Linked DNA regions of Homo sapiens. The protein of the gene in region 6 purifies or fractionates together with the protein of the main gene of each other region. This does not show direct contact. Each region holds a gene or a part of one and is shown on either strand. Other genes may lie near its edges.

What was found.
Region 1: the proteins of VWCE (region 6) and FBXO21 purify together in Homo sapiens (affinity purification with mass spectrometry; 2 studies listed by BioGRID and IntAct, with this or other methods). This does not show direct contact.
Region 2: the proteins of VWCE (region 6) and ZNF77 purify together in Homo sapiens (affinity purification with mass spectrometry; 2 studies listed by BioGRID and IntAct, with this or other methods). This does not show direct contact.
Region 3: the proteins of VWCE (region 6) and ZNF74 purify together in Homo sapiens (affinity purification with mass spectrometry; 2 studies listed by BioGRID and IntAct, with this or other methods). This does not show direct contact.
Region 4: the proteins of VWCE (region 6) and POMT1 purify together in Homo sapiens (affinity purification with mass spectrometry; 2 studies listed by BioGRID and IntAct, with this or other methods). This does not show direct contact.
Region 5: the proteins of VWCE (region 6) and POMT2 purify together in Homo sapiens (affinity purification with mass spectrometry; 2 studies listed by BioGRID and IntAct, with this or other methods). This does not show direct contact.
Region 7: the proteins of VWCE (region 6) and ZNF627 purify together in Homo sapiens (affinity purification with mass spectrometry; 2 studies listed by BioGRID and IntAct, with this or other methods). This does not show direct contact.

Annotation. Positions count from the first base shown.
Region 1 is NC_000012.12:117,183,683-117,188,057, forward strand, and holds part of FBXO21 (F-box only protein 21), read right to left. Parts: intron 2,890-4,375; coding exon 2,795-2,889; intron 1-2,794. UniProt on the Homo sapiens protein: Substrate-recognition component of the SCF (SKP1-CUL1-F-box protein)-type E3 ubiquitin ligase complex.
Region 2 is NC_000019.10:2,941,869-2,946,880, reverse strand, and holds the start of ZNF77 (zinc finger protein 77), read left to right. Parts: upstream 1-1,909; 5' UTR 1,910-2,040; coding exon 2,041-2,043; intron 2,044-5,012. UniProt on the Homo sapiens protein: May be involved in transcriptional regulation.
Region 3 is NC_000022.11:20,392,389-20,397,234, forward strand, and holds the start of ZNF74 (zinc finger protein 74), read left to right. Parts: upstream 1-1,762; 5' UTR 1,763-2,240; coding exon 2,241-2,274; intron 2,275-2,944; coding exon 2,945-3,030; intron 3,031-4,846. UniProt on the Homo sapiens protein: May play a role in RNA metabolism.
Region 4 is NC_000009.12:131,512,376-131,516,750, forward strand, and holds part of POMT1 (protein O-mannosyl-transferase 1), read left to right. Parts: intron 1-863; coding exon 864-956; intron 957-3,050; coding exon 3,051-3,147; intron 3,148-4,182; exon of another isoform or gene 4,183-4,375. UniProt on the Homo sapiens protein: Transfers mannosyl residues to the hydroxyl group of serine or threonine residues. Coexpression of both POMT1 and POMT2 is necessary for enzyme activity, expression of either POMT1 or POMT2 alone is insufficient.
Region 5 is NC_000014.9:77,286,304-77,290,678, forward strand, and holds part of POMT2 (protein O-mannosyl-transferase 2), read right to left. Parts: intron 2,529-4,375; coding exon 2,459-2,528; intron 969-2,458; coding exon of another isoform or gene 930-968; intron 520-929; coding exon 441-519; intron 1-440. UniProt on the Homo sapiens protein: Transfers mannosyl residues to the hydroxyl group of serine or threonine residues. Coexpression of both POMT1 and POMT2 is necessary for enzyme activity, expression of either POMT1 or POMT2 alone is insufficient.
Region 6 is NC_000011.10:61,281,181-61,285,555, reverse strand, and holds part of VWCE (von Willebrand factor C and EGF domain-containing protein precursor), read left to right. Parts: intron 1-2,650; coding exon 2,651-2,767; intron 2,768-3,019; exon of another isoform or gene 3,020-3,078; intron 3,079-3,641; coding exon 3,642-3,770; intron 3,771-4,320; coding exon 4,321-4,375.
Region 7 is NC_000019.10:11,613,887-11,617,350, forward strand, and holds part of ZNF627 (zinc finger protein 627), read left to right. Parts: intron 1-640; coding exon 641-767; intron 768-940; coding exon 941-1,001; intron 1,002-2,808; coding exon 2,809-3,464. UniProt on the Homo sapiens protein: May be involved in transcriptional regulation.

The DNA.
Region 1 (4,375 bases), on a different chromosome or scaffold from region 6:
GACTTCGTTCATGCTCTCTTGGCCATATAGAAGTGTCTGCTCTTTCACTGTCTCCGCATTGTCCTTCTTGGTTAAGGTGGTCTCCCTTAGACTATACAAAGTCTCCTATTTTCTTGAGGAATGTTCACTGTGATCATTTAAAAATTTCAGTTGTTTCATCCTTTGGAAAAATGTTTGCATATGATGCACGTTTTCCTTTCTTCCAGCTGGATATTCAGTTATGTCCAGTACCATTTCTTTAAAAATCCATTTTTTCCCTCTGAGTTTAAATATATTAAATTATCTTTTATTCTGGGATGCATTTGTCAATTATCCTCTGCTACTGATGCAGCTATTTTTATTGAATCACTGTGCTGTTTGGATTATAAGTAGCTTTATAAGATGGCCTAATATCTAGTGATGCCAGTTTCCCATTATGATTACTGAAAAATTGTTTTCTGGCTCTTCTTGTGAATTTAGTCTTCTGTATATATTTTATGACATCCAAATGAAAGAAAAGAAAAAAGCAAAACAACTCCCCCCTGCTCACCACCCCCAACAAAAATACTTTGTTTGAATCCTAATTGGAATGACACTAGGTTTATAAATTAATTTGGGGAGAACTGACATTTTTTGTGATAGCAAGTCTTCACATTCCAGGACATGCTATCTATTTTATGTCTTTCAATAACATCCTATAGTCTGAACTGGGAAACCCATTCCCAGGACTCTACTGCCTAGAAACATCACTCCTCACAGTGACACAAAATGGAAAAAAAAGTGGTTGTCCATCTATAGGAAAATTATGTAGGCTAGGCACGGTGGCTCACGCCCATAATCTCAGCACTCTGGGAAGCCGAGACCAGCAGATCACGTGACATCAGGAGTTTGAGACCAGCCTGACCAAGAGGGAGAAACACCGTTTCTACTAAAAATACAAAATTAGCTGGGTGTGGTGGTGGGCACCTGTAATCCCAGCTACTCAGGAGGCTGAAGCAGGACAATCTCTTGGACCCAGGAGGCAGAGGTTGCCAAGATCACGCCATTGCACTCCAGCCTGGGCTACAAGAGCGAAATTCCATCTCAAAAAAATAAAAATAAGTAAATAAATTATGTAACATACCACAAAAGAGTAAGTAGACATTAACAATAGTGATTTTGATGTTTTACCCGTTGAAGAGGATGGATTTCCATAAGGTACTGTTGAATGAGAAAAAACAATATAGAAAAGTACCTATTATGTGATCCCAATTTTGTGCAATAATGATCCCTTCCCATACTCATCACTGTCAGCAAGAAGAATGCAACCTGGGCTGTTATCAAGAATTACAGAGGTGGGGGCAGGAAAGGACAATGTAAACAGAGGGAATGGGGAGGAAAAAGGAAACAGCATAAATAAGAGAAAAACCAGGTCTGTACTAAACACCAAACCAAAACAACCAACAAAGTAGGTATGAGGTCCCATTTATGTATTTTAAAGTACATATGCACATTAAAAAACACAAGTCAGCTTTTATTTTTAAGACTGCACAATACTGACTACTAGATCATACTTCAATTCATTTATAGATAAACCAAAATAGAAATGGAAAAATGACCTCTGCATCTGAACTCATCCAAGGCCTAGAATAGTGACACATCTTACCTCTACCCACAGTTGTTCCACTGATAGATATTTCTCTCTCCTAAATCCCCTTTAAAAAACAACATAAATATTTCATGCCTTGTTTGTGAGATATTTCGCAAAGATTCCTTTTAAGGAAGATGTTAAACTAACATTCTTATCTTCCATCACTAGAAAGTTTTCAGAACTTTTAGAACAGAAAGTCTTTTCCACAGGAAAGTTAGGCTGGAAGCCCACTCATCTTTCAGGGAAAAACTGGAAATTAACCTTCACAGCAGAAAATAAAAGGTATATGAAATTTTAAGCAATAACCAAGACATAAGGGGTTCTTCTTGATCAAGTGAGTCCCTAAGTACGCAGTTTTCTGACTGGAAGATAAAAGAAAGGCTCACCCAAAGATCTACAGTGTTCAAAGAACAAAGTAGATTATTTTGTACCGCAATTCAGAAATTGTAAAAAATCATCCATTAAATTAAGACATGCCTAAGAAATTATTATTTTTAAATTAAAAGATTCAATTCATGATAGGCAAATCTGATAGTAAGTGGAGAGGTAATAATGAAGGAAGGATGATTTATATTACCAGAAGGTTTCTTTTTTTTATGAGACGAAGTCTTGCTCTTGTCCCCCAGTCTGGAGTGCAATGGTGCAATCTCGGCTCACTGCAACCTCCACCTCCCGGGTTCAAATGATTCTTCTGCCTCAGCCTCCCGAGTAGCTGGGATTACAGGTGTGTACCACCACACCCAGCTAATTTTTTGTATTTTTTTAAGTAGAGATGGGGTTTCACCACGTTGGCCAGGCTGGTCGCGAACTCCTGACTTCAGGTGATCCGCCCATCTCGGCCTCCCAAAGTGCTGGGATTACAGGCGTGAGCCACCGTGCCTGGCCTATTACCAAAAGGTTTCTAAACAACACAACAGATACAAGGGTCTGGGGCACAGTATTTGACCCATAGTAGTGCTAAACATTAATTCCATTTTCTTTCCAAAAGGATTTTTGTAAGGTTTCTTTATATGTCAATTGTCTTGGTGTATCTACCTAATATACACAGAACTTTTCAAAACTGTAACTATGACAAGGCGTGAAATATTTGGAATCACATATTCCAGGGTTTAGCCACACAGAAATTACAGCAATTTACTCTGGACTTATTAAAGCAAACAAATCCCTGCTAAAGCTATGGCTTACCTTCCTTCCATATTTAGGATACACACCAGTTCATCCTCAAAAAAAATCTCTGGTCCTTCAAGGTTCTCAATGTCACTGAAGCCATTACAAGGAACCTATGAAGAAGACATATACAAGTAGGCCTCAATTATGAGTATTGATGCAACTCTCACTCTCACAAATTTGAGCTGAAATAAAGATGTCCACTACTAAAGACAGTGCTAACAGTTATTCTACACTACCTTGCACTACCAGTCATGGGTAGAAAATAACATAAAGTAACAATAATTTACTGAGGTTTTGTTGTTGTTTGTAATCAATGATGTTTTCATAGACTGGAATTTCTGAAACTGACAACTCACAGTTCTAACGTAAAGAAAACTAGCTCTGGCCGGCCATAGTGGTTCATGACTGTAATCCCAGAACTTTGGGAGGCCAAGGCAGGCAGATAACCTGAGGTAAGGAGTTTGAGACCAGCCTGATCAACGTGGTGAAACCCCATGTCTACTAAAAATACAAAATTAGCCAGGCATGCCTGTAATCCCAGCTACTTGGGAGGCTGAGGCAGGAGAATCACTTGAACCCGGGAGGCGGAGGTTACAGTGAGCCAAGATTGCGCCATTGCACTCCAGCCTGGGCAACAAGAATGAAACTCCGTTTTAAAAAAAATAAAAAGGCGGCGGCGGCAGGTGCAGTGGCTCACGCCTGTAATCCCAGCACTTCGGGAGGCTGAGGTGGGCGGATCACCTGAGGTCAGGAGCTCGAGACCAGCCTGACCAACATAGAGAAACCCCATCTCTACTAAAAATACAAAATTAGCCAGGCGTAGTGGCGCATGCCAGTAATCCCAGCTACTCGGGAGGCTGAGGCAGGAGAATCACTTGAACCTGGGAGGCAGAGGTTGCGGTAAGCTGAGATCACACCATTGCACTCCAGCCTGGGCAACAAGAGTGAAACTCTGTCTCAAAAAAAAAAAAAAAAAAAAAAAAAAGATCTTCTGAGTTTAAAATTCTATGGCTTCTCTCAGTTTTCTTTTTGCAAGTAGCCAGAACATTTCAGGTCAACCTGTGTGCATTCTGAGAACACAGGAACGCCAAGATCCCGGGCCAAAGCAATCACCCACCCACAGATTAATGTTAAGTATGCTCCCGCTGTGTTCAAAGTCCTTGACATACTTCTAATTAAGCAGTGGTACAGGAAAAGGGGGAGCTGAGGAAAAAACACAACAATCCATCATTATTACACAGAGGCACAGACTGTTCAAAACATACACAAAACCAGCTGGACTAGAAATGGAGGTTGCAGGCTCATAGTCCATGACCAACTGCACCAAACATAGCTAGTACCAAAATCTACGTATGTGCAAACACATTCAGATCAGCATTTACAATTTGTGATTATGAATGCTTTTAGCCAGGGCATGGCTTCTCCAAAGTAAAATACAAATTTTGTTTATTCTAACACTAATAAATATTTATAGAAACCAATTACACTAAGGAATGTCTATTTGTATTCTCCATAGGGGAAAACATTCAAATTTGTCCAAAGTTCAAATTTTCCCTTTCAAAACTTGAAAAGCCTTGAAAACATTTCAAATTATTA
Region 2 (5,012 bases), on a different chromosome or scaffold from region 6:
CTAGTGATTCTCCTGCCTCAGCCTCCCAAGTAGTTGGGATTACAGGCATGTGCCACCACGCCCGGCTAATTTTTATATTTTTAGTAGAGACAAGGGTTTTGCCATGTTGGCCAGGCTGGTCTCGAACTCTTGACCTCAGGTGATCCACCTGCCTCAGCCTCCCAAAGTGCTGGGATTATAGGCGTGAGCCACTGCGCCCGGCCCTAGAGAATTTCTTAAAGTAAAAGGCTGTACTGTTCCTATGGTAATTGAATTCTTATTTTAACTCATTTGAGAAAATAATCATAGAAGTTTAAATAAATTTGAACTCGACGTGAAAATTCTGAATACTTTTATTCAGTTGAGCCGCAATTCCTAAAGCCTGGAACGCGACTGCTCATCTCCGAAAAGACTTTCCAGCTTGAGACAGAGTAGAAGTATAAACTCTATATCGCTTGCCATTTTACATACAAACATAATTGTCGTAATTCATGTTTTTACTGTGTCGACCTAAATAACAGGCTGTCTAAAAACGGTGGTAACAGTTCATTGCAGTGGGAATATGCGCGGCATAGCAAACTATGTGCTTATTCAGGGAGGTAAAGGAAGACAAAGGTTGTTTTTGGTTTTCATTTTTTTGAGACGGGGGTCTCTGTTGCCCAGGCTGGAGTACAATGGTGAGATCACAGCTCACTGCAGCCTCAATCCCCACGGGCTCGAGCGATCCTCCTGCTTCAGCCTATCAAGTCGTTGGGACCATAGGCGCACACTCCTTTATTCCCAGCTAATTTTTGTATTTTTTGTATATATGGGGTTTTGCCATGTTGCCCAGACTGGGACAAAGGTTTATAAAGGAAAAAAAAAATTTTAAATGAGGATTACATCATTTTTCAGAAATAATTATCCTTGTCTACAAAGATCAGTAACAAGGGTCACACCAGTCTGAGTGTCCCTGTAAAAGTATTTTTTGTTTAAGCCTGTGGTTTTTGTAGAGTCTTTTTCGTTATTAAGCATATAAATGTGAGACCTCTCTCTTCATGACCTTACGTGGTTCTGTTTGTGGGAGGGCTGCTTTTTTTTTTTTTGAGACTCAGTTTCGCTCTTGTTGCCCAGGCTGGAGTGCAGTGTCCTGATCTTGGCTCACTGCAATCTCCGCCTCCTGGGTTCAAGCGATTCTCCTGCCTCAGCCTCCGGAGTAGCTGGGATTACAGGCGCCCGCCACCGTGCCCAGCTAATTTTTGTATTTTTAGGAGAGAAGTGGTTTTCGCCATTTTGGTCAGGCTGGACTTGAACTCCTGACCTCTGATGATCCGCCGGTCTCCGCCTCTCACGGTGCTGGGATTACCGGCGTGAACCACCGCGCCCGGCCGAGAGTTTTAAGAACACAGGGAGCGCCTGGTGGGGTCCGGCCTCCTGGGGCCTCGTCGTCTGGTCTCCAGATCTCCAGGTCTCTGGACCCCAGGCGTCCGCGCCCACGCGGGACAGCACGGTGACGTCACGCACGCGGGTCCCGCCCCCACGCAGGACTCCGCCCCATGGGACTCCGTGCCCTTCCTCTCCTCCCCGCACGAGGGGCCGCTCCGAGGGGAAACTGAGTCTGGAGTTGCCGTGCAGTCAGGGAGGAGGACGCCGCGCCCTCCCTGGACTGGAGTGAGTTCTCCCAGATCCGCGGCTGCCCGGCTAGAGGGTCAGCCACGCGTGTTCTCGACGAGCCCGTCACTGAGGAGAGAATTATCCAATCAGGACAGGCAGGGGCGGGGCCTAGGGAACTGTCCAATCAGAGACGTTAATCCGAAGCGGAGCCCTGCCCAATCAAGGGCGCTAGGGGGACGGACTGGAGAATTCTCCAATCAGGGGTGCGGAGTCGACAGCACTGTCCAATCAGAGTCTCCACTTCCCGAGATCTGTCCAATCAGACCCCGAGGACGGTAAGCCGAGTTCCCCTCTGCCTTGCGCGCTTCCCCGCCTACCCCGAGCGGCTCAGGTGTCCTGTCGTGCTCACCTGCGCCGGTCGCTGGACCGCGGGGCGCTAACCCTGGAGAGCCCAGGAGCGGGCGGGACATGGTGAGTGCCGGGCGGGAGCCGAGCCCGGGCCCAGGGCGAGGTGGGGCGGCAGGAACCGGCTTCCGCCCGAGTTCGCAGCCGGAGAAAGCTGAGGGACGCGCGGGGCGGCGCACGACGAGCGCCTGGGCCCCGGGGACGTGGTCACAGCGGCCGAGGGGTAGGGCTGGGGGCAGTCTGGGGTGACAGCAAAAGCGGTCAGGGGCTCGAGGGGTAGTTTCTGGGGACAGTACAGGTCAGGAGTTTGGGGAGAGCTTGTGGGGACAGCAGAGGTGGTCAGGGGCTTGAGGCAATTTAAGTGGACAGTAGAGGTTTAAGGGGCACAGGGGCAGTTTGCGGGAACAGACACGGTCAGGGGCTCGGCGGCAGTTTGGGGGTTCAGTGGAAGGGAGTCAGGCTCAAGGGCAGATTAGGGGGCCAATAGCAGCGGTCAGGAACTCGGGGACAGTTTGAGGGGGCCGTAGAGGCGGTCATGGGTTTGAAGGGGCAGTTTTGGGGGACAGGTGATCAGGGGCTCGAAGGCAGTTTAGGGGGACAGTAGCTGCAGTCGGGAGTTTGGGGGCAGCTCGAGGGGACAGCAGAAGCAGTCAGGGGCTCAGGGGCACTTTAAGGGGGGCAGTAGAGGCGATCAGGGGCTTGAGGGAAGTTTGGGGGGACAGTAAAGGGAGTCGGGCTCGAGGGATGTGTTGGGGGACAGTAGAGGCAGTCAGGGGATCGGGGAGAGTGGGAGGAGAGGGCAGGAGCCGTCAGGGGCTTGGTGGTCAGTTTGGGAAGGTCTGCCAAGGAGGAGGTGGTGCCCTGTCCTGGAGCCTGTCAAATAATAAAATCCTGGGCCGGGCGCGGTGGCTCACGCCTGTAATCCCAGCACTTTGGGAGGCCGAGGCGGGCGGATCACCTGAGGTCAGGAGTTCCAGACCAGCCTGGACAACATGGCGAAATCCCGTCTCTACTAAAAATACAAAAATTAGCCCGGCGTGGTGGCGGGCGCCTGCAATCCCAGCTACCAGGGAGGCTGAGACAGGAGAATGGCGTGAACCTGGGAGGTGGAGCTTGCAGTGAGCCGACATGGCGCCGCTGCACTCCAGCCTGGCGACAGAGAAAGACTCCGTCTCAAAAACAAAAACCAAAAAAAAAAAAAAAAAAAAAAATCCTGGCTAGAGAAGGAGAGAGAAAAATAGGGATAAGCCCCAGCCTCCGAAACCTGCCAGGTCTCAAAATCAACCAGGAAAAGGCTTTACTTTCATACACAAGAAAAGGTTTGGAGGAACGTTTTAGGGGACAAGCAGAAAGGAGGTTGACAGTAAATGTACCTCCTCGTGGTCAGCTAGCTCAGGGGAGGTGACAGGGGACTCCACACTTACTGCTTGCTCAGACTCGGGGGGGCCAAAGTTCAGGGGCCTGCGGAGAGGACAGAAGGCTGAGTAAAGTTTGGGGAAGAAACGGGAGGCTGCGAACATGTGGTCAAGCTTGTGTAAACCCAAACGTAGTAAGGAAACTTTTATGAAAAAGGATTATTGCGAGGTATTGGGGGAGGGGGAGAAGGGGCTGTTGCAATAGGGAGAAGGGTTAGTTGGATTAGAGGCAGGAGAGTAATGCCAGAGGCTTGAGGTTCTATTGCAGTGGGGTGGGGGTATAAGCAACAGGGGCATGGGGACAGTTGATGATTGAGCTGCGGGACTAATGCTGTAGCCACAGGGAGACAGCTGCAGGGGGAGAGCTCTGTGACCGTCAAGTATGCAGGCATCTGAAGAGTTGGCTAGGCCTGGCGCGGTGGCTCATGCCTGTACTCCCAGCACTTTGGGAGGCTGAGGCAGGTGGATCACCTGAGGTCAGGAGTTCAAGACCAGCCTGGCCAACATGGTGAAATCCCATCTCTACTAAAAAATACAAAAATTAGCCGGGCGTGGTAGTGTGTGCCTGTAATCCCAGCTACTTGGAAGGCTGAGGCAGGGAGAATTGCTTGAACTCGGGAGGCAGAGGTTGCAGTGAGCCATGATCACACCACTGCACTCCAGCCTGGGCACACCTAACCTAGTGAATCATTTCTGATGACAAAGAATGGGATTTCGGAGGGTCTGAATCTGGCCTTGTCATCTGCGTGAATCTTATCTAAGTCGTATGGGAAGGGAGGGTCCTGGCTGTCCCAATTCCAGAGCACAGCAGGACGGGGTTTCACCTTTGCTGGTTTCCAGGAGCACAGAGCTGAAGTCAGTTCAACATTGTCACCTGACAGCTGCGAACAGCCTCGTCTGTGTCCAGCTCAGCATTGGTATTGTTCCTATTTCAGCCCCAGGTTTTAGTAAATGTAAAATAATGAGGCCGGGCATGGGGATGCGCACCTGTGGTCCCAGCCACTTGAGAGGCTGAGGGGGGAGAATCGCTTGAGCCCACGAGTTTGAGGCTGTACCACTCCACTCCAGCCTGGGCAACAGAGCTAGACCCTGTCTGGAAAAAAAAAAAAAAAAAAAAAGAGCCGGGCGCGGTGGCTCACACCTGTAATCCTAGCACTTTGAGTGGCTGAGGTGGGCGGATCACAAGGTCAGGAATTCAAGACCACCCTGATTGACATGGGGAAACCCCGTCTCTACTAAAAATATCAAAATTAGCCAGGTGTGATGGCAAGTGCCTGCAATCCCAGCTACTTGGGAGTCTGAGGCAGGAGAATCGCTTGAACCGGGGAGGCGGAGGTTGCAGCGAGCTGAGATTGTTTCACTGCACTCCAGCCTGGGAGACGGAGCAAGACCCTGTCTCAAAAAAAAAAAAAAGAATAAATGCTTTTTGCCTTTTTTTTCTTGTCCTTAGTGAGGGCAGTCATTGTCTTGGATGTGTTCTTTGCCTTCTGCCACTGCCTGGTGTTATACCATGGCTTAGCCCGAGAAGGCTGCTGTGGAAAACTCTCAAACTCGGAAGACGTTGCATCTTCCATTAGGATGAGGGGAAAGGCGCACACACAGCCCCATGCCATATTGTGA
Region 3 (4,846 bases), on a different chromosome or scaffold from region 6:
CCAGTCCCGCGCCGTGCGCCCGCACTCCTCAGCCCTTGGGTGGTCGATGGGACTGGGCGCCGTGGAGCAGGGGGCGGCGCTTGTCGGGGAGGCTTGGGCCGCGCAGGAGCCCACGGCGGTGGGTAGGCTCAGGCATGGCGGGCTGCAGGTCCCGAGCCCTGCCCCGCGGGGAGGCAACGAAGGCCCGGCGAGAAGTCGAGCACAGCAGCTGCTGGCCCAGGTGCTAAGCCCCTCACTGCCCGGGTCCGGCTGGCAGCTCCGAGTGCGGGGCCCGCTGAGCCCACGCCCACCCGGAACTCGTGCTGGCCCGCAAGCGCTGCGCGCAGTCCCGGTTCCCGCCCGCGCCTCTCCCTCCACACCTCTCGGCAAGCTGAGGGAGCCGGCTCCGGCCGCAGCCAGCCCAGGAAGGGGCTCCCACAGTGCAGCGGTGGGCTGAAGGGCTCCTCAAGCGCGGCCAGAGTGGGCGCCAAGGCCGACTAGGCGCCGAGAGCGAGCAAGGGCTGTGAGGACTGCCAGCACGCTGTCCCCTCTCACTGGGTTGCTATTAAAAATGGGCGCTGAATATAAAAATTAACCGGGCGTGGTGGTGCATGTCTGTAAGTCCCAGCTACTCCGGAGGCTGAGGTGGGAGAATAGTTTGAGCCCGAGAGACTGAGGCTACGGTGAGCCGTGATTGTGCAACTGCACTCCAGCCTGGGCGACAGAGTGAGACCCAGTCTCAAAACAAAATCAAACACGGGCGCTGCCCTGGGCAGGGGAGGTCTGGGCACAGCTGTGCTGATGTGGGCAGTGGACAGGTGTCACGTGAGAGCCTGTGGCCAAGCCTAAGCTGCGGTTAAGGTGGGAGGCTGAAGGGTTTGGAGTGTGCACCACCCCGGACCACCTCTCAGTAGGAATGTGGCAATGCACTTCGGTGCTGGATTCCTACTTCTGGCTGTGTGATTTGCGACACGTTACCCCACGCACCTGTACCACAACTTCCTCATCTCCCAAATGGGATGACAGTAGTTAGCAAACCTCCCTGGACTGCTGTGAGCATTCTGCCAGAAAAATGTACTCCAAGCTCTTGAAGTAGGCCTGGCGTTTGGTTGGTGCTCAGTACATATTCAATGTTTCTGTCGCTGGCGTCATCACTGTGTTCATGGCAGAGCTCTGTGCCGCCAGGACTGGGCCGCCACCCAGACCTTCCTTTCCCGCCCCAGGGGTGAACTGTGGACAGGACCCTCTGGGGGGACTAGGCCAAGGCTCTCCCACCTCTGGGGACCCGCGCCCATGGGCCTCAGATATGTGGCTCGAGAAGGGGGAGTGGGGGCAGGGCCCCTGGAAAACCCCTCGAGGCCAGACCCACCACTCCCAATATCCGTAAGACCAGGGGCTTGAGTCTTTCCTGCAGACAGATGTGGGCAGGAACCCACCCGACTCCCAGCTACGTGGGGACGTGGACGAACTAACAGGACAAATTCTAGTTCCTGGACACCGCCCTCCCAGTATCCTCGCAATTAGACACCCATGCAGCGGCACTACACTGATCCGCACACGGAGATACACAGCGACATCCGCCCGCAAGAGCATGGTGGGTGCCGGAGCTCCCGGCTGTGGGCCCAGGAACTACATTTCCTAGAAGGATGTGCTAGATACTCGTTCGCGTCGGGACGCAAGCACCGGCCCGAACTCGCTCTAGGAAATGGAGTCTGACGCCTGCGCGGCGCAAACGCTCCCGGGAGGTGTAGTTTGCGCCTATTTCGCGCAGGCGCGCTTTCCCGCAGCGGCCGCCTGCTGCTCTTTGTGGCAGTCGCAGTCCTTTTGTGGGAGTCCGGTCTGTCCACTTGCCGGTCCCTCAGACCGTCGGCGGTCTCTGTCCGCTTCGGGACCTGTCCGCTGGTCGCTCCGCGTCCGATGGCTCCTGGCCGCGGAACCTTAGGCCTGGCCCTGGTCTCCGAGCGCGGGTTCGCCGGGAGGAGCGTGTGGCGGGGGTGTGCCGGGGCGTGAGTGCGCCGAGCATGGGGCTGAGCCTGGTGTGGGGAGTGGGTATCTGCGGAGCCGGCCTGAACCCCACCTCAGCCGGGCGCGGGGAGGGGGCTCCGTGCGTGTGATCGTGCAGCTGTGAGCGCGTGGCCGCCCCGCGGGGCTCCGCTGCAGGCCCCTCAGCCCCAGGAGCAGTACTCGCTCTTCAGGGCCTGCCCTGGATCCTGGAGGCTACACAGCTGCCCACTCCTCCTGGGGAGGCTGCCGTGGAGGCCATGGAGATCCCTGCCCCGGAGCCCGAGAAGACAGGTACAGCTTCACTCTTGTAGTCAGTATGTCTGTGGATTTGCACTTGAGGATATTGACACTCAGAGAGATCAGGCCAGTTTCCCAGAAGCATCCAGCATCTTTTTTTTTTTTTTTAAATGGAATCTCACTCTGTCACCCAGGCGGGAGTGGTGCAATGGCTTGATCTCCGCTCACTGCAACCTCTGCTTCCCGGGTTCAAACTATTCTCCCGCCTCAACCTCCCAAGTAGTTGGGATTGCAGGCGCGCGCCACCACGCCCGGCTAATGTTTGTATTTTTAGTAGAGACGGGGTTTTGCCATGTTTCCCAGGCTGGTCTTAAGCTCAAGCGATCCGCCCGCCTCGGCCTCCCAAAGTGCTGGGATTACAGGCGTGAGCCATCGCTCCTGGCCTCCTGCTTCTTTCTTCCCCGCGCCCAATCATTTGTTCCCACTCAGACGTGCTTGATTGGGGGTAGCAGCTCTTTTCGTCATGAATTGGAGTGTCTGAGACACAGGCAGATTATTCCTCGATGCTGTTTCTGTTGGTGCTAGCTACTGGGGCTCGTTCCCCACCTGGCCTTGCTGGCAGGTTCTGCCTCCTCTCTGATTCTCACTTGTGCCACGACAGGTGGGCTTTAAGCTCAGCCGTGAGCCTGGTAGCCGTGACCTTGACTCATTTCTCCTTCGCCAGCTCTTTCCTCTCAGGATCCTGCTCTTTCCCTGAAAGAGAATCTCGAGGATATATCGGGTTGGGGTCTTCCCGAAGCCAGGTCCAAGGTGAGTGGCTGTGTGTTCTTCCTTCTTTATGAAGAGGGTTGGCACATTCCCTCCCCAGCCCTGGATCGTCAGCCTTCCACAGACCTTCACCCGGGTACCTGCTGGCCAGTCCTCAGGAAGCTCTGGGCAGTGGGAACAGCTCCAAGTGAAGAGTCCAGATGTTGCCCGAGGTGTGCCCTCGAGATGTGCTCTATTGAATGTCTCGCCCAGTCCAATTCAGTGGGTCAGTTGCTGGGGATCTCTCTGCCCAGCGCTGTGCTGGGAGCTCTGAGGAGTGGTTTTAGTGGAATCTGAGAAAGTAGTTGACGGCTCACATGGGGTCGCTTTGCCTATCCACGTGCTGGCCAGGGGTTGGTGCAGGATGTTTGCACGGTTGGTTTACTGGGACTGGAATCAGACAGGGGCACGTGGAGCAGCTCAGGAAGGGCTGGATTGCAGCACTTGGTTAAGAGTGGCGGTAGGGGACACATCCCTGTGTGCTTTCCTCTGTACCCAGCCCCTGGCATGGGGCCTTCATGGAGAGTCCTGGAGATTTAGAGAATCTGGGGGCTCAGCAAGGAATTGGCCCTGGGAACTTCTGCAGCCAAATGGGACCCAGATCCCTCCTTTTACAGACTGTGAACTCTGTTCCTCATTTTGTTTTTCTACCGCAACCACCTCACCCCATGGTTGTATTTAGAAGGGTGCAGTTGACAAAGAGAGCACAGTAGAGTGAAAGATGTGGAGGAATAAGGGGTCTTTGGGTTTTTGTTTTTTTTTTAGCATTTTGTGATTTTGTCAGTCTGCCACTCAAAAGAGGTGATGGCAGATTATAGCCAGCTAGAAACAGCTGCAAAACGTGTATTGTGAGCTGTGCCTCACTTCTGTAGTGTGTCACAATGCTTTATAGTCCTCAAGAAACTTGACAGTCAAATGCAATGCATGTTCCTTGCTTAGGGGATAGATCCAAAAAAATTGATAAAGGGCAGTTTGGGACAAGAGGAAATTTGAAAATGGGCTGTATCTTAGGTCATATTGTATCAATATGAAATTTATTGCATGTGATAATAGTACTGTGATTATGTAAGAGAATATCCACAGGAGATACAAGCTGAAGACTGTAGAGTGAGACATCATGATGTCTGCAACTTACCTTCAAATGGTTCAGCAAAAAAAAATGTGTGTGCATGTATGTATGTCTGTATGTGTCTGTGCAGCTCCGTCTAGGTGGTAGGGCCCTCATGCATGTGTTATTCCTATTCCTAAAATATTAGCTTGTTAGATCTTTGAATAACCAGTTGACTCTCCTGAGTACACATCAGCTTTGGCATTTTCTCTTGACAGTCTCATTCTCACTCACAGTTCAAGTTGTTCTGTCTCCTGGGACATCTTGTGTGGTCTGTTCTGACTTCTCTGCTAGTGTCATTACCACATCAGCATCTGATTCCAATGCATACTGTCTGGGTTTTTTATTCCTTTCCCTGCAGAATGATGACACATTAGACATGGACTTCTCCCAGTGGCCAGAAATACCCATCAAAAAGGCCTGTGCGGGCCTCAGACCCTACCCTACTCTTGCTGGTTTTGCTCCCCACACTGAAGCCATGTAGCCTCTGACAGCCTCACTGGCCAACACCATATTCTGATACCTGTGGAGCTATTTTTTTGTTTTTCTTTCTTTTTCTTTTTTTTTTTTTGAGACAGAGTCTTGCTCTGTCGCCCAGGCTGGAGTGCAGTGGCACAATCATAGCTCACTGCAGCCTTCAACTCCTGGGCTCAAGCAAATCCCCCACCTCGGCCTCCTAAGTAGTTGGGACCAACGTGTGTGCCCCCACAC
Region 4 (4,375 bases), on a different chromosome or scaffold from region 6:
ACCTGTGTCCCTCTCCCTTCCTCATAAAAACAAGAACCCCCCTCCTGCAAAAGTAGCATCATCTTGCACACATCCCAGCTAGAGGTGCCCCTTGCTCTCATTCCCATATCCAGTCCTGTGGATTCTGCCCCCAAACAAGGTCTCTAGCTGTCCCGGTCACTGTCTCCTGATGGTGTCCTCCCATTGCTGCCTGCCCAGCTCCAGCACCTGCAGCCCGAGTGGGCTTTTTCTTTTTTTTCTTCTTATTTTTTCGGGGGACAGAGTCCCACCCTGTTGCCCAGGCTGGAGTGCAGTGGTACGATCTCGGCTCACTGCAACCTCCGCTTCCCGGGTTCAAGTGATTCTCCTGCCTCAGCCTCCCGAGTAGATAAGATTACAGGCGCCCACCACCACATCCTGGTAATTTTTGTATTTTTAGTAGAGACGGGGTTTCACCATGTTGGCCAGGCTGGTCTTGAACTCCTGACATCAAGTGGTCCACCCAGCTCAGCCTCCCAAAGTGCTGGGATTGCAGGTGTGAGCCACCACGCCCGGCCCCCTCATACACTTTCATTGGTGGAATGCCCTTCAGAAGGATTCCTTGGCAGTCATGGTACATTTGTCACTGTAGTGTTTGTAGACAAATTCAGAGCAATGCAGGTGTGATGACCGCGGGTAGAATCACATTCGGAAAATGACCTTTGGTTTCAGAAAAGAGCCCAATTAATGTCTGTGCTTTGGTTTCCTGTGTTCACCTCATGTGAGGCACACATGGGTTGGGAGGCAGTCTCAGCCATGAGAATTCAGAGCTGTGCCCCTCCGGTGCAGCTGTTAGTTCGAGGGGACCAGGCTCTGTGTGGTCCCGACAGCACTGTGTCTTCCAGGCACCAGCTGGTGGTGAGCAGCCCTCCGAGACCTGTGAGGCACGGGGACATGGTGCAGCTGGTCCACGGCATGACCACCCGCTCCCTGAACACGTGAGTGTGCCCGCCGTCTGCTCTGCTGCACCTGTGGGTTTCCTCTGTGGTTCTCTGTTCAGACCAAAACGTGAGCCCTGCCTTGGGCCGCTGCCCCCTGTCTACCCATCATCTGCATGTGTAGCAGCTCTTAGACCTACATTTGATGCCGGGAGGGGACCCAGGCCTGGCCGCGGAAGGGAGCGGGGTTAAGAGGAAGCAGGGGCTCTGTGAGGACTGGACAGAAGCACCTAGCACAGCCCATCCTAGGAGAGCTCAGGGCCCCGTGGATGAGTGTACAAGGACAGGCTGGGAATGTTGACCCGCTTTCTATGCAGAGAATGGAGTTTGGGCACACCTCCTTAAAGTGGTCAAGCTTAAAGTATGAGTGAGTCCAAGAAGCCTGGAAGCTCGGGCACGAGTGGAGCCGTGAAGGCTTCTTCCTTCTCAGTCCTTCGTCCTTGTCCGACTTGCCTTCCCGTGGTGCTGGGCACAGTTGCTCACACCCTCCTCCTTCCTCCCTGACTGCTCTCTCCACCGCCTCCTTTTCCTCTGTTGCTCTCAGTCTCTGAGGGCCCTCCGGCCTTGCTGCCTCTGCACAGGCCCAGTCCCGGGGCTACCTCTCCTGGACTTCCACCCGGCTGCCCGGGGCTCACCTCCAGCTCTCCACGACTCCCAGCTCCACAGGGGCGGTCTCTGGCCCTGGCTTTTCTGGTTCTCCCTGGAAAGGGCCCAGTAGCTGAGGCATCACCTGACTCCTTCCCCTCCCCTCCCATTGCATGTTGATTCCATTGGGAGATCCTGTTTCTCAACCTTCAGAACCAGCCCTGGGTAGGGGTCCTTCCTTCTCCCTCTACTCCCACCTCCTGGGGCCTGACCTCTCTACCTCGCAGCAGCCTGTCCGGCCTGCGGACCGTGCACAACCCACTTGCGTTGTTCCTCTGTGCTCAGTGACTCCCGTCACCCGCCAAGGTCCCTGGTGACCCTGACACACTTCACCCCCGCCACCCTGGCTCCCCCCAGCCCTGAAACAACCACCTGCGGGCCCCTTGGGGGCTTCACACTTGCTCCCTCTGCGAGAATGTTCTTGGACTTGGCTCCCCCATGGCCCCTCTATGTAGGGGTCTGCTGGGATGTCACTGCATCCAAAAGTGCCTCCTGGGTGCTGTCCCCCACCATTTGTTTTATTAGTGGCACTCCTACAGGTGCACGCTCTGCCCACCGGCATGATGGCTGTTTCCCAGAGGGCTGTGAGGGCCTTGTCTTGTTCACAGCTGGGTGGCTGCTCCTAGACAGTGCCAGGTGCATGGTGCGGTACCACATGGTTACTGAGTGTGTGGATTAAGAGGAAGTGGGTGTTCCTGACCGGGCGTGCTGGCTCACACCTGTAATCCCAGCACTTTGGGAGGCCAAGGTGGGCAGATCATTTGAGGTCAGGAGTTGGAGACAAGCTGGGCCAACATGGTGAAACCCCGTCTCTACTAAAAATACAAAAATTAGCCAGGCATGGTGGCATGTGCCTGTAATCCCAGCTAGACAGGAGGCTGAGGCAGGAGAATCGCTTGAACCCAGGAGGCAGAGATTGCAGTGAGCTGAGATCGCGCCATTTGCACTCCAGCCTGGGTGACAGAGTGAGACTCCATCTCAAAACAAAAAAGAAGTGGGTGTTCGTTAACATTGAGGTTGATAGCCTTTTCTCCCAGCTTATCTGCTGCGTCCCCAGGCCAGCTGGGCGCAGGGGCGGGCAGCTCAGCCCTGCAAGTTGTAGCATTGGTACTGCCAGCTGGCATCGCAGCAGTACCGGATCGGGCCTGGGCGCACGGTTCCTTCCTCTGAAACTTGGTTCGCTCGTCTAACAGGTGGAAGGTTCCACAGCAGAGTGTCCTTTTCTTTTGGAGATGTTCCCACAGGGCCTCCTGCCTGTTTAGTGTCCACTCCCATCGCCGAGCCTCAAGACCTCCGTCCTCAGTAGCAGCAACTCATGGGACTGGGCCACCCCTTATGGCTGAGCCGGCTTTGTTTCTGAAAAGCAACCTTTTCCTGCCTGAAAGATTTAGTAATTGCCTTCCAGAGGAGTTCAAGGAATTTTCTGAAATCTCGGTCTTGGTTTTCCAGGCATGATGTTGCAGCCCCCCTGAGCCCCCATTCACAGGAGGTCTCCTGCTACATTGACTATAACATCTCCATGCCCGCCCAGAACCTCTGGAGACTGGTGAGTAAGGCTGCGGCTATAGCAGCCACAACCGTCAGTAATGAACACTCCCTCACACGGAGCACTTCCTCACCCGGAGCACTCCCTAACACAGAGCACTTCCTAACAGAACACTTCATCACACGGAGCACTTCCTCTAACACGGAGCACTTCCTCTAACACAGGACACTTCCTCACACGGAACACTTCCTCACACGGAGCACTTCCTGTAACAGGACACTTCCTCACACGGAGCACTTCCTCTAACATGGAGCACTTCCTGTAACACAGGACACTTCCTCACACGGAGCACTTCCTCTAACACAGGACACTTCCTCACACGGAGCACTTCCTCACAGGGAGCACTTTCTCTAACACAGGACACTTCCTCACATGGAGCACTTCCTCACATGGAGCACTTCCTCACAGGGAGCACTTCCTCACACGGAACACTTCCTCTAACACAGGACACTTCCTCTCACACTCACACGGAGCACTTCCTCTAACACAGGACACTTCCTCACACGGAGCACTTCCTCACACGGAGCACTTCCTCTAACACAGGACACTTCCTCACACGGAGCACTTCCTCACATGGAGCACTTCCTCACAGGGAGCACTTCCTCACACGGAACACTTCCTCTAACACAGGACACTCTCACACTCACACGGAGCACTTCCTCTAACACAGGACACTTCCTCACACAGAGCACTTCCTCACACGGAGCACTTCCTCACACGGAACACTTCCTCACACGGAACACTTCCTCACACGGAACACCTCCTCACACGGAACACTTCCTCACACGGAGCACTTCCTCACACGGAACACCTCCTCACACGGAGCACTTCCTCACACGGAGCACTTCCTCTAACAGAACACTTCCTCACACGGAGCACTTCCTCACAGGGAGCACTCCATCACACGGAGCACTTGCTCACACGGAGCACTTCCTGACATGGAATGTTTGAAACTGCCGTTGAGAATAATCATTTTTCCTTTTTTTCAGTTTACCCAGTTGAGGTTGGATATTTAGAATAATTCTGATTCAGATGTAAAGTTACATAAGTTTTATTCGTACATAAAGTCACAGATGTTTTCACAGGGAACCGATGCGTCTTCCTTGGTGGAACTGGGGAACCTGGTGGTTTCCTGCATCAGAGGCCTGTGTTCACTGAGATTCTAAATGCTTTGTGTTTGCTCCATGTTGGGTGCCAGGTGCGCTTGAGGCTCTGCCAGGTGAAAGTT
Region 5 (4,375 bases), on a different chromosome or scaffold from region 6:
AATACAAAAGCTATGGATAATATCCCTCTGCAGAACAGGGAAATGATACTTAAAAATAAAGCTAATGAGAATTTGGGATCTGGCAAAAGATAAACATACATGTTGTTCATCTGGGGTCATATTGTGGGTCCTTGGCTTCTATGTCCAATGTGATTTTAAAAGAGATCCAAATAGTATTCATATTTGACATTTATTAAGTATCAGAGCATGTAAATGGCATGGTTATTATGTGAGGAGAGAGATGGAGACAAACAGACTTCATAGGCTGCTTTTCCCAGAGCAGGCCTAGCCAAAAAGTGCCCAAATGTTAAGAGAGTCCCTGTGCAGCCTCTTATCCTCAGGAACATTCCAGAATTCTGGGGAGGAGATATCCCACCACACAGCCCTGAGCCAAGGCCCATAACTTTTACGTCCTACTCACATCCCCGTTGCTTACTTACTATGCCATAGCCGGTGACCTGATAGTGCTTCCGGGTCATGGGGGCCTCATGATAGTGACTGTGCAAGTTCCGGGAAGTTCTAGAAGTTAGAAAAGAGAAGTGTCATTATCCTATAGAAAGATGATGTGCAACATTTCTTCTTTTACCAAGGATGTTCAGAGTCAACTGTCAGGATAAGAAAAATTAGAATCTGAACTATTAAATCCAACATATCAGGAACTGGTTTCCTATTTACTCACAAGAAATATCCTGAGAACTGGAGAAGAGATGAGCCCAAACCAGGAGAGACAGATGGTAGGAGCACTGGACGGCATGCCAAGAAAGGGGCTAACTTTAGGTGCTGGCAGGGAGGTGGGGGGCGACTTTCACACATTTAGTAGCTTTGAAGCACTTAGCTTGCCTGACTTAGGAGGCAGGTTTGAGGAGAGGAAAAATTAAAACTTGTAATCTGCATGGCCTGAGCTAGGTAACCTCCTCACTGCCACTTACTCTTTCTGCTCCCATCGCCAGATTTTTTTAAGTGGACATCTGTGGAGGATGAGAGGGGTTTAATTTAGCTTTTATTTAGTTTTATATAACAACTCTCACTTTTATCTGGAACAAATAATAAATGTTCATTATAAAATTTCTGAAAATTTGCAAAAGTAAAATTTAATTACAATAAATTTTTATTAATGACAAATGAAATTTATTTAATAAAATAAAAATTTTAAGTATTCAAAATCCAGCTGACTCAAAAAAAAACCATAGCTAATTGCTTCTCTCTCTGTCTCTGTCTCTCTCTCTCTCTCTCTCTCTCTCTATATATATATATATATACCCACACACATACACACCTCTGATTTTTAAAAATTTGTATCCGATAATTCCAGTCTATGAAATGTTTACGGGGCTGCTCCTGCTGTCTGTCGTTTCAGCTTGTTCTTGCACACAGTGCCCTATTTCCTTGTGTGCTTTGTTACTTTTGGGTGTGTACTATTGTCACTAAAAAACTATGGGAACAAATGACAACGACTTTCCCCAAAGAGGGCTTACATTTGCTTTTAGCCATGCACCTAGGAGACACGACCAATCTAGGATCATGTTCATTTAAATTCATGTCTTGGAGATTCTGAGATCACCCAGGCAACATGAATTTGAGCTCCAAGTTCATGTGAGGATCAAATGGTAGTTCCAACTTCTCAGGAACTAAGGACAGTTCACCACCCAACCCCCAACACTTAGCTGGGTCCTAAAGTGGACCTGGGCATAAGTGGATAGGGCAGATTTACCCTTACCCCAAGCCTTTGGGGGTTCCAAATATGGGGAAGGATAACTTAATAAATTTACCACTTTGGGTGAGCCTAGGTTTGACTTTAAAACCTCTTCTCTCAAGAGACAGCCAAAAGTCAAGATTGTGGGATCAAAGCAAAAGTGGCTTCAGTGTCTCACTTATTTCTCTGGATTCCTCATTTCACTTAGGCTTTGGCCTGGTAACTCTTTAATATCTTGTCAGCCTTTTTATGCTCTTAAGAAGTCTTTATATTATTCCAGCATTTTTAGTCATTTTCAGTGAGAACACTGGTTAAATAAGCTAGCTTGCCATATTCTCAGAAACAGACTCCTACGTCTTTCTAAAGGCAGCCACTTAAGAAGAAGCTTTGGGAGCTGGGTGTGATGGCTCATGCCTGTAATAGCAACCATTTGGGAGGCTGAAGCGGGAGGATCGCTTGAGCCCAGGACTCTGAGGCCAGCCTGGGTAACATAGTGAGACTCTGTCTCAAAAAAAAACAGCAGCAGCAGCTTTCAGCAACTCAAATTTTCCTCTAGGAAATGGGAAATTGAAAGGTCCCCAGAAGGCAGGCAAAGGCTGGCCTGCAATTTCATCACCTTCATAAAATGCTTCTCCCATTCTCGCACTGTGGCCTTGCTCCATTGACCAGAGCCTCATCAAAATCTAACTTCTGTTTACTTCTTAAAATAACTCCCTCCCCTTGGTGCCCGTACCATTTATTTATCCAAACTGCAAATTGACTTACTCTTTGTGTTCTAGTCGAATAATGTCTCCATGTCTTACAAACTCCACTGGGAAGGAAGGGTCTAGGGGATCTGCCAAAAAGAAACAAGCATTGATATCCAAAATCACTCACCAGGCTAGTATTAATCAAGGGCCTACTGGTAAACAGTTATAGTACCATGTGGTATCTGCTAGAGGTACTAACCAGGTACTCTGAGACCAAAGAGGAAAGACCCCTAAATTGCTTCAGGGTATTAGAGAAGGGTGTCCCAGAGATAATGCTCGAAAAGACTCTTAAGGGAAAGGGAGAATTTTGTCAGGTGAACAAGCAGGAGAAAGGCACTAGAAGTGTGAAAGAAGAAAACTTCTGGCCGGGCACAGTGGCTCACGCCTGTAATCCTAGCCCTTTGGGAGACCGAGGCGGGCAGAACACCTGAGGCCAGGAATTCGAGACAAGCCTGGCCAACATGGTGAAACCCCATCTCTACTAAAAATACAAATAATAGCCGGGCGTGGTGGTGCACGCCTGTAGTCCCAGCTACTCGAGAGGCTGAGGCAGGAGAATCGCTTGAACCCGGGAGGCGGAGGTTGCAGTAAGCCGAGATTGCGCCACTGCATTCCAGCCTGGGTGACAGAGCAAGACTCTGTCTCCAAAAAAAAAGAAGAAGAAAAACTCCTTCGATGAATAGCAAATGGGTTTCATACTGTAAGGGTGGGTGGGGTGGGGGAGAGTGGGAACAGATGAGGCTATGAACGAGTGTGGCCAGACTGCATATTCCAGGCTGGAATGTGGCCTTTACCCGATGAGGCACTGAAGCCCCCACTGGAGCTTAAGCTGGGAAGCTAAATAGTAAGACTTTAGTAGTAATAACAGCCTTCTAAAAAGTAATTCCATACAAATGACCACTTGCCCAACTCTCCTCAAAATCAAATAAACCCTGACAATCTTGCCAGCGAGTATCTTGTCTCTGGCAATAAACTTGCTAAATGTGAGGTGAATAATGATGAAATGATTAAAGGACTACTTCTGTATCATCTCAAAATCAAGACCAATCAGGATCTAGAAAGGTGATGACATGGAAAAGGAGCTGGCAGTAATCATAGCAACACAGAATGGATCCTTGCAAATTTCTGTCCCAAACAGTGAGATACCAACACACTATAAATTGATCAAGGTCAGGAAAGATAAATTTGCCAGTGCAAATCACTGGCTCTCAAGAGAATCAGAGAACTCAACCGCAGAGACACCCATTTCCATGCTGCCTGTTAGGGTCTCTTAAAAGCATTAATTAGCAAGATGACAAATCAACTAAGTCAATAGGGAGGGAGGTTTTATTTCATATGCATTTGGTGGGGAGGGGCATTTATAGCCTTCAAGAACACAAAGACCCTAGTCTATAAAGCTCCCACAAAATCCTTAATCACTTCGATGAAATGCAACCATCTTAACTCAGAAGTCACAATGGAATAACAGACTAGGAATGTTCAAAGACTTGGTTCATGACCACATGACGGAAGTAAAACTGGTCTTCCCTCGTAACTCCTCACTGTGATAGAACACTCACGTTTGGCCTGCTGAATCAATCAATATCCATTATAAAAGTATAGAAACAGACTCTGCCCAATGGTGTCGTAATTTATCCCACTAAGGAGCAGGATGTAGAAAGTGGTTGTATACGCCACGTTTCTAGCCTACACAGCAATAAGAGGAGGTGGATTTAGGTGAGCAGCTGCCCATTTCTCTACAAAGGCCTAGGAGCAGCTGAGCTGGGATAGGCTAAGCCAGGTGGGATTTGCTGAGGAGTCACAGAGATACCTGTGGCACAGGACTGTCAGCAGAGATGACAGGCTCGGAAGGTGAGTGGAAGATGCCCTCTGTTCTCTTAGCTGCAGCAGAGGCACAGCCTGCAGGTAGCTAGCTGTCTGACCAAAGAAAGGA
Region 6 (4,375 bases):
CCTGCCCCACTGCTGGCCCAGGCTCTGGAGCTACCCTGGGGAGTAGGATCCCCCAAGTCTGATGGGGAGCAGAAGAACAAGCTTAGGATGAGGGATAAGTGTTGGGAAAACCCAGGGAAGAGAAGGAATCCTACCTCTTCAGTTTGCAGGATGAGAGATCTTACAATTATTACTCATTCTTTTAAAATGCCTTTTATTTACACATTATGGAAAGAATCTCACAAGGCCGATAATTGTGACCTCCCCCTGAATCTTACATTATTATTTTCTTTATGTTTGACATTTTCATAAATTATGAGAAAAAATTTAAAAGCCATGGTGCTAGCCCAGGCCCTCTTTCCCACTGCTGCCCTCTGCTCTCCCTGGAGAATAGCCTGCGCGTCTTAGTCTGCTTGGGCGGCCATGATAAAATTCCACAGGCTGGGGGCTTCTACCACTGACATTGATTCTCATAGTTCTGGAGGCTGCAAAGTCCAAGATTAAGGCACTGGCTAATTCAGTTTCTGGTGAGGGCTCTTCCTGGCTTTCAGAAAGCAGTCTTCTTGCTGTGTCCTCACTTGGAGAGAGAGCTCTCTGGTATCTCTTCTTCTTCTTTTTTTTTTTTGACATGGAGGAGGACAGAGGACACTCCCTCTGTTGCCCAGGAGTGCATTGTTGCAATCTCAGTTCACTGCAACCTCCGCCTCCTGGGTTCAAGCGATCCTCCAACCCTCCCAAGTAGCTAGGGTTACAGGTGTGCGCCACCACGACTGGCTAATTTTTGTATTTTTAGTAGAGATGAGGTTTCACCATGTTGGCCAGGCTGGTCTTGAACTCCTGACCTCAAATGATCTGCCCGCCTTGGCCTCCTGAAGTGCTGGGATTACAGGCGTGAGCCACCCAGCTAGGCCTCTCATGTCTCTTCTTAAAAGGACACTAATCCCATCAAGAGGGCACACCCTCATGACCTCATGTAACCCTAATTATCTTCTTATCTACTTATCTTACCTGCATATCTTCCAAATGCCATTACATTGGCGGTTAGGGCTTCAACACGATTTTTGAGGGGACAGAGTTTAGTCCATAGCACTCAGGCATTGGTCTGCTGTGTGCCCTCCTTGCCCCTCCCCATGATGTGTACGTACGTACATGGGCACTTACAGAGATAGGATAGTTGCTGAACTCTCAGGTCCTGGGTCCTGGGCTAAGCACTTTACACGCATTTTCTCCTTTCGCCCTCACAATTACCCAGTGAAGTTGGTATTATCTATCTCCATTTTATTGAAAGGAACACTGAGGCTTAAGGAAATTGTTACTTGCTTAAGATCCCATTAGAGCTAAGGTTTTTTTCTTCTTTCTTTCTTTGTTTTTTTTTTGTAGAGATGAGGTCTTGCTGTGTTGCCCAGGCTGGTCTCAAATTCCTGGCCTTAAGCTATCCTTCCCGCTTTGGCCCCCAAAGGGCTGGGATTCCAGGCATGAGCCACTGCACCCAGCCAGAGTTGGGATTTGAACCTAGTCATTCCTTTGCTTGTTCCCCTTACCCCTGCCCAACGTTGGTCTTGAAGATGTTTCCACATCAGGGTAAATAGACTTGCCTTGTTCCTTTTAACTGCTGACTCTGCAGTGCAAATATTTCATAGTTTACTAACTCTTCTCTTATTGATGAACATGGAGATTATTTCCAGTTTTTCACAATTTCAAACAGCACTAGGGAACTTTTACAGAGGAGGTTCCACTGAAGCTGAGTTTTGAAGTATGAGTAGGAGTTTTCCAGCCAGACAAGAGGGAAAGGCATTCGAGGCAGACAGAGAACATGGGCAAAAGTGGAGCACCAAAAGAGCGTGGTGCATTTGGAAGATGGCAAGAATTTAAGCCAGTGGCCAGGTGCAGTGGCTCACGCCTGTAATGGAGGCCAAGGCAGGTGGATCGCCTGAGGTCAGGAGTTTGAGACCAGCCTGACCAACATGGTGAAACCCCATCTCTACTAAAAATACAGAATTACCCAGGCATGGTGGTGCATGCCTGTAATCCCAACTACTTGGGAGGCTGAGGCAGGAGAACTGCTTGAACCCAGGAGATGGAGACCGCAGTGAGCTGAGATCGCGCCATTGTACTCCAGCCTGGGCAAAAAGAGCAAAACTCTGTCTCAAAAAACAACAACAACAACAAAAAAGAATTTAAGCCAGAGTGAAGGTCAGGGGCAAGGAAGGAGGTGGGCAAGGCAACCAGGACTGTGTTCAAAGGCATCGTGAGCTATGGGGCGGCATTGCTGTCTTACCCTAAGATGAGGTCTGTGGCCTGTGGGAGCAGCGGAGAGGTTTTGAGCAGAAGGGCCCTGATTAGAAATGCCCTTTGGTCAGAACATCCTGGAGGCTGTGCAGAGGATGGCTTGAAGGAACCTAGGTAGAGATAGACACACTGGAGGCTCTGGCTATTCTCCAGACTAGAGATGAATGTGGCCGGGCTAAGGGGTAGCAGTGAGGATGAGAGACGTGGGCTGGTCCAGAGAGTATTTAGGACTGGATGTGGGCAGTGCAGAAGAGGGGCAGCTAAGGTGGTTCCCCACAGCCCTGTGTGTATAGGAGATGGAGATGAGGGAGGAAGAGGGGACCATATATTTCCAAGGTTCTGTTGGGGAAATGAACCCCAGTCTTGTCCCTTTTCCTGCCAGACACTGACGAATGCCTAGGGACTCCCTGTCAGCAGAGATGTAAAAACAGCATTGGCAGCTACAAGTGTTCCTGTCGAACTGGCTTCCACCTTCATGGCAACCGGCACTCCTGTGTAGGTAAGGCGGGGAGGACCCTGTGGTCTGCACACTTAGGCTGCCAATCAGGAGGATGGACAGGGAGCCCAGGGACCCGGGAAGGTTAACAATTAGACTTTCTGGTCCTCTGGAGCTTGAAGGGGCTTGAGCCTTTGGCTCAGAGCCTGCCTGTCCCTGGGGTTGGTGTGGCTCTGCATGAAGACCCTGTCTTGGACTTTTCCTGGCCATTTGCCACTTTCATCCTGTTATGTTTCTCTTCCGCTCCTCTCCCAGATACACCCCAAGGATTCCTCTCTGCTCACCCATTTTCTTGGCTGCCTTTGCTCCCCTTGGTAAATAAAGCACGTTATGTCTTGGTTCCTCTGGTTTAGAAGGAGACCCTGTTTTCTCAGCCCATTAGCAGAAATTTCCAGAAAGGGATTGGCATGTTTGGTTTGAGCTTGGCTCATGGGTTTAAGGTGGGGTCCCATGGGCCTGAAAAAAGACCTTGTTCTAGCGGAGTTAGGTATTTGTCCCGAAGCCTTCCTTCAGCAGCCCAGTGAGTTTTGAGACTTTTTTCGGAAAGAAAAACGGGAGGGTGGAAGGTTTGGAGATGAGCTTCTCATTGGGGCTTACCCCTACCACGCAGCAATTAATTACCGCTGCATAGTGCTGGGGCTGAGTCTCTGATACTCGCATTAAATACCTGCTCGATGTGTGAACCTATTAACAAGACAAGCACTAGATTTCAGCCCCGCTCCCAGCTGTCTGAGTCACATCCCGCACCTCGGGGCAGGCATGGACCCTGTAAGAACATGGCAGAGAAACTCCCCAAGTGTTTTGAGCTAAGGGATGGGCGGAAGAAGGGCTCCGTAGCCCAAACAAAGCAGCTGTCCGCAGCGAGGCTCTCCCGCAGATGTAAACGAGTGTCGGAGGCCATTGGAGAGGCGAGTCTGTCACCATTCCTGCCACAACACCGTGGGCAGCTTCCTATGCACATGCCGACCTGGCTTCAGGCTCCGAGCTGACCGCGTGTCCTGTGAAGGTGAGCGCCAGGCCCCTCCATCCCGGCGGCTGGCCACGCCCCCTCAGTGCCTGCCCCAGCTACGCCCCCCCATAGCCTGGCCCCTCCCCGTCACGCCCTCCCGGCGCCCAGCCACGCCCTCTCAGCTCCTGGCCCCGCCCTACCCCGGCCCCGCCCACCTGGCGCTAGGCTCCCTTTCTGCTCTGCCCTTGTTTTGAGTTCATCTTGTTTGTTACTTTCAACACTCCACTTTCTTCCTCGCTTTCTTTTTCCACTTCTTTATCCATTCTTCCTTCTTCTTTTCACTGTTTCCCCAGCCCTTCTGTTTTTTTCCCAAATGATAAAAGGATAAAACCCAACAGGAGTCCGAGTATCCTGGGCTACAGGGACAGCCATTTCCGTGGTTCGCCCTGCCAAACGGCGACAGTGTCCCCATAAACATAGTAGAATGTTGCGCAGACCACGGGGGGTGAACAGGGACTTGTGGTGGTGGAGCCGAGCCCAGGTCTCCCTAAACCCTGCCTCCTGTCTCTGCTGTCCACCCCAAGAGACCTCCGTGCTTCTGTTTCAGCTTTCCCGAAAGCCGTGCTGGCCCCATCTGCCATCCTGCAACCCCGGCAACACCC
Region 7 (3,464 bases), on a different chromosome or scaffold from region 6:
AACTCTTTTTTCTGCACTCTAGTTACTAGATTTTTTTTTTTTTTTTTTTTTTTGAGACGGAGTCTTGCCCTGTCACCCGGTCTGGAGTGCAGTGGTGCAATCTCAGCTCACTGCAAGCTTCGCCTTCTGGGTTCACGCCATTCTTCTACCTCAGCCTCCTGAGTAGCTGGGACTATGGGCACCCACCACCGTGCCTGGCTAATTTTTGTATTTTTAGTAGAGATGGGGTTTCACCTTGTTAGCCAGGATGGTCTCGATCTCTTGACCTCGTGATCCACCCGCCTCGGCCTCCCAAAGTGTTGGGATTACAGGCGTGAGCCACCGCGCCCAGCCACTACATGTTTGTTACAACAGGTGCTACAGGCCTACCTTACAGAGAGACATTAGGGGTGGCCCAGGCAGTACATACTTCTCCCACCAGAGAGGCATGCTCCTATTCTGCTGTTGCTAGTTCAGTTCTAGCAGCAGAATTGCTTTGTGGAAGGAAGTGAGTCTAGACAGAGGGTAAGTTTGATGACTGTGGAATCTTGAAATAAATGTTTGGAAAGCATAGCATCCTGAGAACTTCTTGGGAATAAAGTCTAGGCCCCCAGTGCTGTCTGTCTCAACCTTCCTCCTCCACACATGGGGGATGTTTCAGGATTCAGTGGCCTTTGAGGATGTGGCTGTGAACTTCACCCTGGAGGAGTGGGCTTTGCTGGATCCTTCCCAGAAGAATCTCTACAGGGATGTGATGCGGGAAACCTTCAGGAACCTGGCTTCTGTAGGTAAGGGTGACAATATTCCTTTCCTCAGTGAATTAGAGAACAAGTGTTTCTAGCTCCTTAACACTTTGGGGAATAAACCAGGCATGGGTACAGGGAATTATGAATATAGAATCTAATACTTTTTTCATAATTTTATACTAATTCATAATGACTTTTCTGGGTCTAAATTTTAGGAAAACAATGGGAAGACCAGAACATTGAAGACCCATTCAAAATTCCCAGGAGAAATATAAGGTAATTTGCACTCACAAAAGAAAGTTCTGTTCCTTGAGAGCATTTCGTATTGTTAGGAATTTTTTTTTTTTTTTTTTTTAGATGAAGTCTCGCTCTGTCGCCAGGCTGGAGTGCAGTGGCACAATCTTGGCTCACTGCAACCTCCGCCTCCCAGGTTCAAGTGATTCTCCTGCCTCAGCCTCCTGAGTAGCTAGGACTACAGGCACGTGCCACCACGCCGAGCTAATTTTTTGTATTTTTAGTAGAGACGGGGTTTCACCATGTTGGCCAGGATGGTCTTGTTCTCTTGACCTCGTGATCTGCCTGCCTCAGCCTCCCAAAGTGCTGGGATTACAGGCCTGAGCCACCATGCCCAGCAGGAATTTTTAAAAGCAAGCAAACAACATATAAGCCCAGCTTCAAACTGTTTTGTTTTTAGAAAATCTTCTCCAAGCCAGGCATGGTGACTCACGCCTGTAATCCCAGCACTTTGGGAGGCTGAGGTGGGCAGATCACGAGGTCAGGAGATCGAGACCATCCTGGCTAACACGGTGAAACTCCGTCTCTACTAAAAATACAAAAAAAAAGTTAGCTGGGTGTGGTGGTGGGTGCCTGTAATCCCAGCTACTCGGGAGGCTGAGACAGGAGAACGGCGTGAATTGGGAGGCAGAGCTTGCTTTGAGCCAAGATGGCACCACTGCACTCCAGCCTGGGTGACAGAGTGAGACTCTGTCTCAAAAAAGAAAAAAAGAAAATCTTCTCCAAAAACATAGTTAAGTGTAACATAGATGTTCAGTGTTTGCAAAATAGTTCAATTATAGATAGTATTAAGAAACTTCATACGAATATCTTTTTTTTTTTTTTTTTGAGAGGGAATTTCACAACTCGTTGCCCAGGCTGGAGTGCAAGGGTGCCATCTTGGCTCACTGCAACCTCCGCCTCCTGGATTCAAGCGATTCTCCTGCCTGAGCCTCCCGAGTAGCTGGGATTACAGGCGCCTGCCACCACACCTGGCTAATTTTTTGTATTTTTAGTAGAGACAGGGTTTCACCATGTTGGCCAGGCTGGTCTTGAACTCCTGACCTCAGGTGATCCACCTGCCTCAGCCTCCGAAAGTGCTGGGATTACAGATGTGAGCCACCACACCTGGCCATGAATATCATTTTCTTTCTTTCTTTTTTTTTTTTTTGAGACAGAGTTTCGCTCTTGTTGCCCAGGCTGAAGTGCAATGGCATGATCTTGGCTCACTGCACCTCTGCCTCCTGGGTTCAAGCAATTCTCCTGCCTCAGCCTCCCGAGTAGCTGGGATTACACGCGTGCTCCACTGCGCCTGGCTAATTTTTTTTATTTTTTATTTTTAGTAGAGACAGGGTTTCTCCACGTTGGTCAAGCTGGTCTTAAACTCCTGACCTCAGGTGATCCTCCTGTCTTGGCCTTCCAAAGTGCCGGGATTACAGGCATAAGCTACTGCGTCTGGCCATGAATATCATTTTTTGATAATAGGTATGGTTGTGACCTATTGCAGACCATTTAGTCCACTCATGTTCAAACAGTTGAGACAGGCATAAAACGTACACTTTCCCTGGTAATGTTAAACATGTGAATCCAAGGCCAGGCATGGTGGCTCACGCCTGTAATCCCAGCACTTTGGGAGGCAGAGGTGAGAGGATCCCTTGAGCCTTGGAGTTCAGGGTTCACGCCTGGGCAACATAGTAAGATTCTGTCTCTGTATTTAAAAACAAGTATATGTAAGTCTAATACCTATTAATAAATATAAAATCATTTATAAACAAAACATTAATAATGTACTTCTCATTTTTCTGACAAGTCATATTCCAGAGAGACTCTGTGAAAGTAAAGAAGGTGGTCAAGGTGAAGAAACCTTCAGCCAGATTCCAGATGGTATTCTGAACAAGAAAACTCCTGGAGTAAAACCGTGTGAAAGCAGTGTGTGTGGAGAAGTTGGCATGGGTCCTTCATCACTTAATAGGCACATCAGAGATCACACTGGACGTGAACCAAATGAATATCAGGAATATGGAAAGAAGTCATATACACGTAACCAGTGTGGACGAGCCTTGAGTTATCATCGCTCTTTTCCAGTACGTGAAAGGACTCATCCTGGAGGAAAGCCCTATGATTGTAAGGAATGTGGAGAAACCTTTATTTCTCTTGTAAGCATTCGAAGACACATGTTAACGCATAGGGGAGGTGTACCTTACAAATGTAAGGTGTGTGGGAAAGCCTTTGATTATCCCAGTTTATTTCGTATACATGAAAGAAGTCACACTGGAGAGAAACCTTATGAATGCAAGCAATGTGGGAAAGCCTTCAGTTGTTCCAGTTACATTAGAATACATGAAAGGACTCACACTGGAGATAAACCCTATGAATGCAAGCAGTGTGGGAAAGCTTTCAGTTGTTCCAAGTACATTCGAATCCATGAACGAACTCACACAGGAGAGAAACCCTACGAATGTAAAC